Linked DNA regions of Homo sapiens. The protein of the gene in region 2 interacts with the protein of the main gene of each other region in a pairwise test. Each region holds a gene or a part of one and is shown on either strand. Other genes may lie near its edges.

The links.
Region 1: the proteins of DHRS7 (region 2) and ETV5 interact in a two-hybrid assay, tested with the Homo sapiens proteins (one large-scale study listed by BioGRID and IntAct).

What each region holds. Positions count from the first base shown.
Region 1 is NC_000003.12:186,101,746-186,106,089, forward strand, and holds part of ETV5 (ETS translocation variant 5), read right to left. Parts: intron 4,198-4,344; 5' UTR 4,124-4,197; coding exon 4,079-4,123; intron 3,968-4,078; coding exon 3,880-3,967; intron 3,752-3,879; coding exon 3,704-3,751; intron 3,611-3,703; coding exon 3,560-3,610; intron 1-3,559. UniProt on the Homo sapiens protein: Binds to DNA sequences containing the consensus nucleotide core sequence 5'-GGAA.-3'.
Region 2 is NC_000014.9:60,154,623-60,159,810, reverse strand, and holds part of DHRS7 (dehydrogenase/reductase SDR family member 7 isoform 1 precursor), read left to right. Parts: intron 1-3,658; coding exon 3,659-3,811; intron 3,812-5,188. UniProt on the Homo sapiens protein: NADPH-dependent oxidoreductase which catalyzes the reduction of a variety of compounds bearing carbonyl groups including steroids, retinoids and xenobiotics.

The DNA of each region.
Region 1 (4,344 bases), on a different chromosome or scaffold from region 2:
CCTTCCCATCTGCCCCCACTACTGGTCAGTCTCTTCAGCTATTTGGGAATAGCTGTGAAAGGAGGGGGCTGGGCAAGCTTGTCTCTACAAAGGACATCCAACTCAAGCAATCTGAGATCTTCAGAGTTACTTCTTAGGACCAAGGGACAATGAGGTCCACTGGTAGAATCCCTATGATCTATAGATTTCTATTCCCTTGAATTTGACCTTTCAGAGTCTCCATGCTTTACTGATATCTATATGTGTGAGGTAGAGGTGAAATCTGTACAGCTAGAAGTAAGCTGGGCATTTCTATAAGATATAAAAGCAATGGTTTCATTCACTCAAATCAGACTTAAGGATGTATCCCTATGGGCAGGAAACCCAATTCTAAGAAACTTACAAAATATAATCTCTTTAGAAGTTGAACTTTTAGTGTTTAGAGAAAAAAAAAAGCCATAATCTTTAAAACTGACATTCCAAAATAAAAATATTACCTACATTTCTTAGTATTTCTCTTTCTTTCATGTATACAATAAATTTACACATATACAATGGAAAATTATCAAATCATTATTAATAGGAAAGTGTATTACCAGTGGCCACTGGTAAGAATATTTGTTACAGGCCGGGCACAGTGGCTCACGCCTGTAATTCCAGCACTCTGGGAGGCTAAGGTGGGCGGATCACCTGAGGTCAGGAGTTCAAGACCAGCCTGGCAAACATGGTGAAGCCCCGTCTCTACTAAAAATACAAAAATTAGCCAGGCATGGTGGCAGGTGCCTGTAATCCCAGCTACTCGGGAGGCTTAGGCAGGAGAATTGCTCGAACCTGGGACGTGGACATCCCAGTAAGTGGGCCGAGATTGCGCCATTGCACTCTGGCCTGGGTGACGAGCAAAACTCTCTCTCCAAAAAAAAAAAAAAAAAAAAAGGTTTGCTTTCCCCTGGCAAATCTAAGTTTGGCTTATATTCATTGGTTAAGTGAGTCAAACCAACTCATAAGGTTTCATTAAATTTGAATGAGTTTTCTTCCCTCCCCTGAAAAAAATCACGAGCTCTTCCAGAAAATGACTGGAGTGAAGCTGGTCCTGAACTCGAGGCTGTGGAAAGCGCTCATGGAAAAGTAAGTGCATGCAGCCGGCTGTGGGCTCTGCCAGCTCCTCCTCATGCTTCTGGCTGTTGGTCTGAACTGCAGGCAAACAAACTTGCTTTTGCAAGAATGAATGGCTCAAAGATGCACCACCCACATTTGTGTTCTTGCCTTGCTTCTTAAGCAAGTTATTCTATTTGAATCTATCCCTTCTTGAAGCTCTACCTCAAGAAATAAAGTCAGAGGGAAAGAATCATTAGAAGACCTTTTCTAGGCTAGTCAACCATCTCTTTTATCCTTAAAAGACAGAAAGGCTCAACCTTAGGCAGTTAAAACAAAAAGTAAGCAAAGTAAAAAAAACATCATACTTGGTAAGCAGAAACATCTCCCAAATTACCTCCACTTGAGGTATGGAATTTTAATTAAAGAACTTAGCACATTCTATTTGCTGAGCAGAAATTATTTCTAAAGAGCCAAAACACATTTATTGATTTCTTCACTTTAGCCTATTCCCACAGATAAATATCTCTCCAAATATAAATCCTGCTTGCTGACAAAGAACATACCCTTGCTTCAGCACATGCAATCAATTTGAATGCAGCCATCTCATCTCCCTTTTAACTCTTTTGGGTTACAGAGAAACAAACAAAAGTGTCATAAAAGCATTTCAAAGAACCTCTGCCAAGAAAGCCACCTCCCAAACAGACTGCAGTTTATGCTGCTCTGAGCAAGAACTGGAAAGGCTGGGCCAAATTGTCAACACAGAACAAAGTTGGATTACAAACCCTGTCTTTCATCTTGCAAACACACACACACACACACACACACACACACACACACACACACACACACACTTGGATTATCTTTATTTAGTCTTTCAGTGGCAAGCTTCCCAATCACTCGAAAGCAATCAAAGGGCAATAATTAACATGCATTTACTCTCCCATAGAACACATCCACAGCAAGCTGTGACAAAGCTAAGGTAACCATGCATGTGTGTGTTCCAGTTTATTCCCTTTTACAGTTTCATGGCATTGTGCCTTGGACATGAGGCCTATCATTAAGGAATGTTTAGCTGTTACCTCTGCTCTTACATTTAAAAGATTTGGAATACCCAACTTTTTACTTAGAGAGAGACCTAAGATACTCTCTCTCCAGTGGCATTTTTACACACATACACCCACCTACCCAGAGATAAAACAAAGCTGGGAAGAATCTGTTGGTCCAAAATGAGAAATTGAGTCCTTGCATGGCTCAGGTGCTTGCTATTATAAACTATGACTAAGAGACATGAATTTCTCTATGATGCAACTCTCAAGAGAGGCAGCATTTTCTCCAGGCCTCTCTTAAACCTGCTCATTCGCCAGTGACTAATGCTCTCTAGAGCAGCCCTGTGCTGCTCAAATTTCATCAGCCGGCTTTGTCCTTCATAACTCTGCCTAGACCATAAAAGCTCCCAAACCTGTTGAGGACAGCCCCAAAAGATCAGTGCAAAGTAACCATGCCCCTGCCAGTGTTGAAAGCCATCTTTTGAGCTTCCCACTGCATTTTCTCTCTAGTAATGAGCACTTAGTGGCCATTTTAAGAAAAAGTTTCTCTTCTCTGAAGAGAAAAGCCACAGCAACTACACGAAAAGTAAGAGTAAATCAGGCCACTCTGTGACCACCCCTTGTCAGCTTAGGGGTAGAGACAAAATTGACAACATGTTGGATGAAGCCAAAGTTAACTGGAGTTTTCCATTAACTATTTTCTGCACCTTTAAGAAAAAGAGAAATATCAGGTTCATGATTCACATCAAGGACTTAATTTATAAAACAAACCCCAAAAAAGCCATAAAACAATGTGTGATTAATAGATGCTTGGCCTAACACCAAATATATTTTGTCAGTTAATTTATAATTTTGAGCTTAAAGCTTTGCAATATTCTTTTTTTTTTTTTTTTTGAGATGGAGTCTTGCTCTGTTGCCCAGGCTGGAGTGCAGTGATGCGATCTCAGCTCACTGCAACCTCCGCCTTCTGGATTTAAGTGATTCTCCTGCCTCAGCCTCCTGAGTAGCTTGGATTACAGGCGCCCACCACCACACCTGGCTAATTTTTGTATTTTTAGTAGAGACGGGGTTTCACCATATTGGCCAGGCTGGTCTTGAATGCCTGACCTCAAGTGATCCACCTGCCTCAGCCTCCCAAAGCCCTGGGATTATAGGTGTGAGCCACTGTGCCCAGTCAGCTTTACAATATTCTTAAGGTAAAAAGAAATTTAGGATAAAATTATGTTCAGTAAATCTTACCTGCAATACAGTAGAAATACTTTAGAAATAATTTTATTATGAAATAAAAGTTTTCAGGGTTAATTCTGAATTATTAGAAGAAACTAAATGCATACTACTGTCTAAATCTGGCCATAGCTGAAAAAAGCATATTCTAGACATGGATGATCTAAGACCAAACAATTTCAGAACAAATGTGCCATCACCAGAAAGGTACTTACGGTTATCAGACTGAAAATCTGGGACAAACTGTTCATCATCAGGAACTTGTGCTGGAAAATAGATTTTTATTTTAGACCTTTAAGTTTTATTAAAAAGCACAGTAAAATGTTTTATATGGAAAATAGGACATCCATGAAACTTGCCTTCAGCTAACCAAGCCTCTTGAAGTTGACTGAGATCCTGAAATAGCTCTGAAATTGAAAAAGAAGACCCCAGAATGAGGATATTTCTTTCGCTAGGGAGAAGACAGGGAAGAATCTACACGCTACTGTCACTGGGAGCAGGGAAGCCACAACATAATCAGGGAAAGCTTTACTACCTTCAGAATCGTGAGCCAGATCTGTGTCCAAAAACTTCCTCTTTCTGTCAATCACAGGCCGCCCTCTGCATTCCTCAGATCGAGATTTCTGAAAGAGGCCAACAGAAAGTGAAGGCTCAAGTGTAGTAAAGAGGTCCACAGGGGGAAGACTCATATTGGAGAGGGAGGACAAAACAAACCAAAAGCCACATAAACTTACCCCTGGGACCATAAAAGGGACTTGCTGATCATAAAACCCGTCCATGGTGCTTTCAGCGTCTCTAATACCACTTTGAGAGGTTTCAGCATTGAGTAATTTCTGGGGGAAAAGGGATCCTCCTGTAATATGAATTTGGGAGATTTTAACTAAGAGGGGGGAAAAAAAGAAATGAAACAATTTTAGACTGCCTTTTTTTTAGGGCCTGTGCAAAATTATTACCCTTCTGTGAAGTACTTAAAACCTACTCAAGGTGCAAGCTTTACACA
Region 2 (5,188 bases):
AATTGCTTTTACAAATATGAAACCAGTTTTTCCCTGGGGGAGGGGAGATAGGAAGGAAGAAGCCAGTGGAGAAGGGGCCCAAGAAGATGGATAGGGTACATGAATCTGTGCAGTCAGTACCTGATTGGGGTCACTTTTTCACAGCATGATGGTTATTTTCTTGTATATCTTACTAAGCCTATAATAAAAGACAGGGCTAAACCCACAAATCAGAGCAAATTTGATAAAACATTCATCTTAAGTTTCATAAATATGTGCTATTCTAAATTAAGTTTCCAATACATTTGCACATTCTCATAGACTAACATAATACACAAACTTATGGAAGTTTCCTGTTATGCTATGAATGTTGCCTACATCTGACATTAGCTTCATAAATATTCAATGAAACCACAAACAAAGGTACTATCACTTTTGAAATCTGTCCAACATATAAAGAAAGGTCAGCAGCAATTCCATAAAACAGAAGGGCTTCAATTCTGTATTTTCTTTTGCTTTTTGTGTCAGTTGTTTGAAAAACACTAGAAGCTGACATGAAATTTTCTGTGTATTGTCTAAGAAACTTGGTTTTCTGATTTTAGCTTGAGATTTTCTTCCGTAACCGCATCTCCTCTGACAGGGAGATCTTGAAGTGTATGTTGGGGTTCCAACACTTGATTAATAAGCTGTGTTTTTCCCTCCAATTCCAAATGATTTTCAGCATCAACTGCATCCATGTCAATATTTGTCGTCTTGGGTAACAAACTTTTGGGCCTTGGATACAAAATCCTTGATGAATGTTTGAGGTGCTGGGAGAGGAAGGGATGGGGAGGATGCCTCAGGCTGGACACTTGGACCCACCGACACCAGAAGTTTGATTTCTTCTTTGTCAAACCACAAGGCAGGATTACTGCCCACTGCTACTGGTTGATAGCATTTAAAAGCTTATCATATCAGTATAAAAAAGATCCCTGGAATGATTAGACTTTCCCAAAAAAGGAGCTGAAGCCTTCAGAGATAATTAGCTTCCTCATCCTGTGAGGGAATTAGAGATGGGTCAAGGGCTTGAGAAGAGAATTCTCAAACTGGAGTGGGGGTTGAACTATCACTTTCCTTTCAACTCTTAAGAATCTACTTTCAGGGGCTCTTAAAGGGAGGCCATTATGTATACCAGATTCTGTGGAATCGGGAAACAAACGGTGCTAAATAAAAAAGTTTCTTCAGGGTGGGAGGAAGAGGCCAGAATTGTGATTGTATTAAAAGTTTACACCATCAGCTTTAAATATTTGCTTATGTGTGTAAATATCAAGAGGTCTTTGTTAGCTCGACACTAGTTAGTAAATCCTGTGTTTCTAAAACAAATGATATTCACTCTAGAGTGTGATGATTGCAGAACTTGGGAACAACAAGTAGTCAATGAATGAATAAATGATTATCTGAATAGATGTTATGTTGTTCTTGATAAAGTCCTATAGGAAGGTGGCCCAATTGTGCCTTTTCACAAAAGTACGTTATATGACAGGAAAGCATTGTAGCCCAGACATAGTATTTGGGATGTTTCCATCCTTAGTTGAGATTTTTTTTTTTTTTTTTTTTTTTCCGACAGAGTCTCACTCTGTCACCCATGCTGGAGTGCAGTGGAGCAATCTTGGCTCACTGCAACCTCTGCCTCCCAGGTTCAAGCAATTCTTGCACCTCAGCCTCCTGAGTAGTTGGGGTTACAACGATGCGCCACCACACCTGGCTAATTTTTGTATTTTTCATAGAGAACAGGTTCCATCATGTTGGCCAGGCTGGTCTCGAACTCCTGGCCTCAAGTGATCTGCCCGCCTTGGCCTCCCAAAGTGCTGGGATTACAGATGTGAGCCACCGTACCTGGCCTTAGTTGAGATATTTACATGGAACCTTTTTCTTAAGGACAAGTGGTATTTTCTTGAATGTCTAAGAAACAGTTGGGTTTTAAAATATTGATCATATGTAAATGTGTATATCATGAAATAGTGGACAGTGTGGGCTTTGGAGCTAGATATACCTGGGCTTATATCCCGGCTCTGCCAGGGTTCTTGGGTGTTTATTCAGTAGTTATTTATGGAGCCTTTTCAATATTCCAGTCTTTGCTAAGCACTGAGGCCACAGCAATGAACAAGGTAGACAGGGTCCTACCCTTAATGGAATCTATGGTCTAGTGGGACAAATTAATCTCTGTAAACCTCAGTTACCTTTTCTGTAAAACTGAGATAATAATACCTTTCCATACAGTTCTGGTGAGGCTTTTAGTAGACAATGTGCTAAGTACATAGGAAGTAATGTAAAAACGTTAAGCCATTAGAATTGGTAACTCTGTTTTCCTGGCTGGAGAAGTTAGGAGACATACGTTATTAAGTGACTGTTCTATGTTTTGCTGTAGTAAAGTCCATCTGTTAAAAAACTTGAGCAATAATTATAATTGACGTTTATTAAACACTGAGTATGTACTAGATACTGCCCTGAGTGCTTTCCATGTTTTAACTCATTTCTCAACAATCCTGTGAAGGATGTGTTCTTATTCATCACATTTCCAGTTGTGGAAAATTAAGGCACCAAGTTCTCACCTGGGAGCATTTCAGTGCTGTGTGTGATGGAGCTGGCATTTGAACCCTGGCAGTCTCCAGGGATGGTACTGTTAACATCACAGTTAGGATTTAGAGCTGTTTAAAACAGTACAATCATTTCCTGATTTTAACTTTTCTGATCTAAAATCGGAAATGTGATGTTAAGTGATACGATATTTGATATTTTTGATAAATAACATATATTTTAGTAAATAAGTCACCCAGGAACTTTGCATAACAGTGACTTTACGGGTTCAGAGAGACAGTGAATATCATCTCCTGAAGTGCTAATAAGTTTTTCATTGGAGAAAAGAATAAACCATTTGTCATTGCTTTAGTACTGTAACATTTGTAGTCTTTTAAGAGGAACATAATTGGAGAAGCAGAGTACAATATTTCATCTCTCTGTAATATGCATTTGTTCTTGGGTGAATTACTATATTCTCCTAAGATGAAAGCTCAGGCATCTGGGGAACATTTTTACAAAATGACCTTGAGCTGATAGGCATCAGGCATTATTGGCAAATGGGGAAAATACTACTTTAAAAATCTAGGATGTTTCCATCAACAGCACAGAACTTGGTATATTTAGATTCTTCATCAACCTCCATTGCAAAATATTAGAATAATAGAATTAAAAACTGGATGTGACCTTCAGCCATCATCTAATCTGAATGCCTCATTTAATGGCTAAGGAAAAGTGAGTCCAGACAGTGATTTTTGTATTTACTTAGCCTGTTTATCTTATCTATCATATTTATCTTACCTGTTTGTGTTAAATAGAGCCTTAGAGTGAAACCATGAGGTTATAAGGCTTACCTTGAAGTAAAGTCTGGAAAAGTCATGAAGGTTCTGTAATATACAAATACTGTGTTGATAACTGTTACTAGTATGATTTGTATTAATGCTTTTTTTTTTTTTTAGTTAAGAAGGAGATGCTTTCTTAGAATATTTCAAATTTTAACTCTATACATCATGCCTTCATATTTAGTGGTATTGTTTAAGGCTTTCTTTTTTTTTTCTAATCTTGGATTTATGAGCGTAATTCATTGCTTATTTTCTTCCTTCCATTTACATTCCTTCCATAGAATGGGAGCTGACTGATATGGTGGTGTGGGTGACTGGAGCCTCGAGTGGAATTGGTGAGGAGCTGGCTTACCAGTTGTCTAAACTAGGAGTTTCTCTTGTGCTGTCAGCCAGAAGAGTGCATGAGCTGGAAAGGGTGAAAAGAAGATGCCTAGGTAAGCGGATCTGAAATAGCAGCGGTGCTTCCTAGAAATAAATCAGTCCAAACTCAAATACAGTTTTGGGACTTTTAGAGAGGAGTGAGATTTCCCCCCGGCTCCAAATGTTCTACATGCTTCATCTCAGTTCCTCTCCTTTTTGCCTTAATTGGCTGCCCTCGCCTTTTTCTTCTTTTCTGCCACCTTTCTATGCTTTTTTTGCACTGACTCTTGGCATTAGGGAGTGACCAACAATTATATAAAATGCTGGTGGATTTTTAGTGACCAAGTATCTTAGATTTTTGTCTTAGAGAAAAAACAGTTGGGTTCTTATCCATGACATACATGTATCTGATCATAGAAATTAGGAAGAATCCTTACTCATTTTATTAAAGTATCAGATATTAAAATCATATGGGATAAGACTTATTATATAGGATAAAAGAACAGGAATGGAATTAGCTTTAAAAAATACAACTTGAGGTAATACTTTCATATTCACATAAAGGGCAACAGTGTTAATATTTTTGTTTGAATTTTGGTGTAGTTATGTTTACTTTTTTCTTTTTGAGATGAAGTCTCACTTTGTTGCCCAGGCTGGAGTACAATGGTGTGATCTTGGCTCATTGCAACTTCCGCCTCACAGGTTCAAGCGATTCTTGTACCTCAGCCTCCTGAGTAGCTGGGGCCACAGACGTGCACCACCACACCCAGCTAATTTTTGTATTTTTAATGGAGACGGGGTTTCACCATGTTGGCCATGCTGGTCTCGACCTCCTGACCTCAGGTGATCTGCCTGCCTCGGCCTCCCAAAATGCTGGGATTACAGGTGTGAGCCACCGCACCCAGCCATTATGTTCACATTGAAAGCAACTTCAAGTATAAAGTTATTATTTTTCATGGAACATTTATTAATAGTACCTAAACTGAGATAATTTTGAATTTTCCAACAGACCATTTTTTGGGCCATCTCTCTACCTGTCATTCTTTTAAATCTTTAACTTTGCTGATCGAGCTAACCACCCAGAAATGAGAGTTAGTTGCCACAGTAGTGCTCAGCAGGGCAACAGGCCTCTTTCATGATACTGCTTTCAAAGGCCTCTTGTGTTTTTGCACTGGGCCACTTCTTTTGATAGTTGTTCCTCTACTGCTGTGACTTGCAAGTCCTGTACTGGTGGAGTAGATGAACCAGGTCAGCATTTCTTACCTGGCACAAGGCTGTTTCCTTTTATCTTGCAGATCTGTAGTGCCCACTTTTTCATTTAATACAGTTGATGTTTCACGCTTAACTCTTTTGCCCATGAAGTCTTTTTACCTCTTCTATTTTCTATACTTGCTTGTTTTTCTTACTGATGTTACTTGTATTTCAAGGTTAGAGTCCAGGAAAATTAGTTT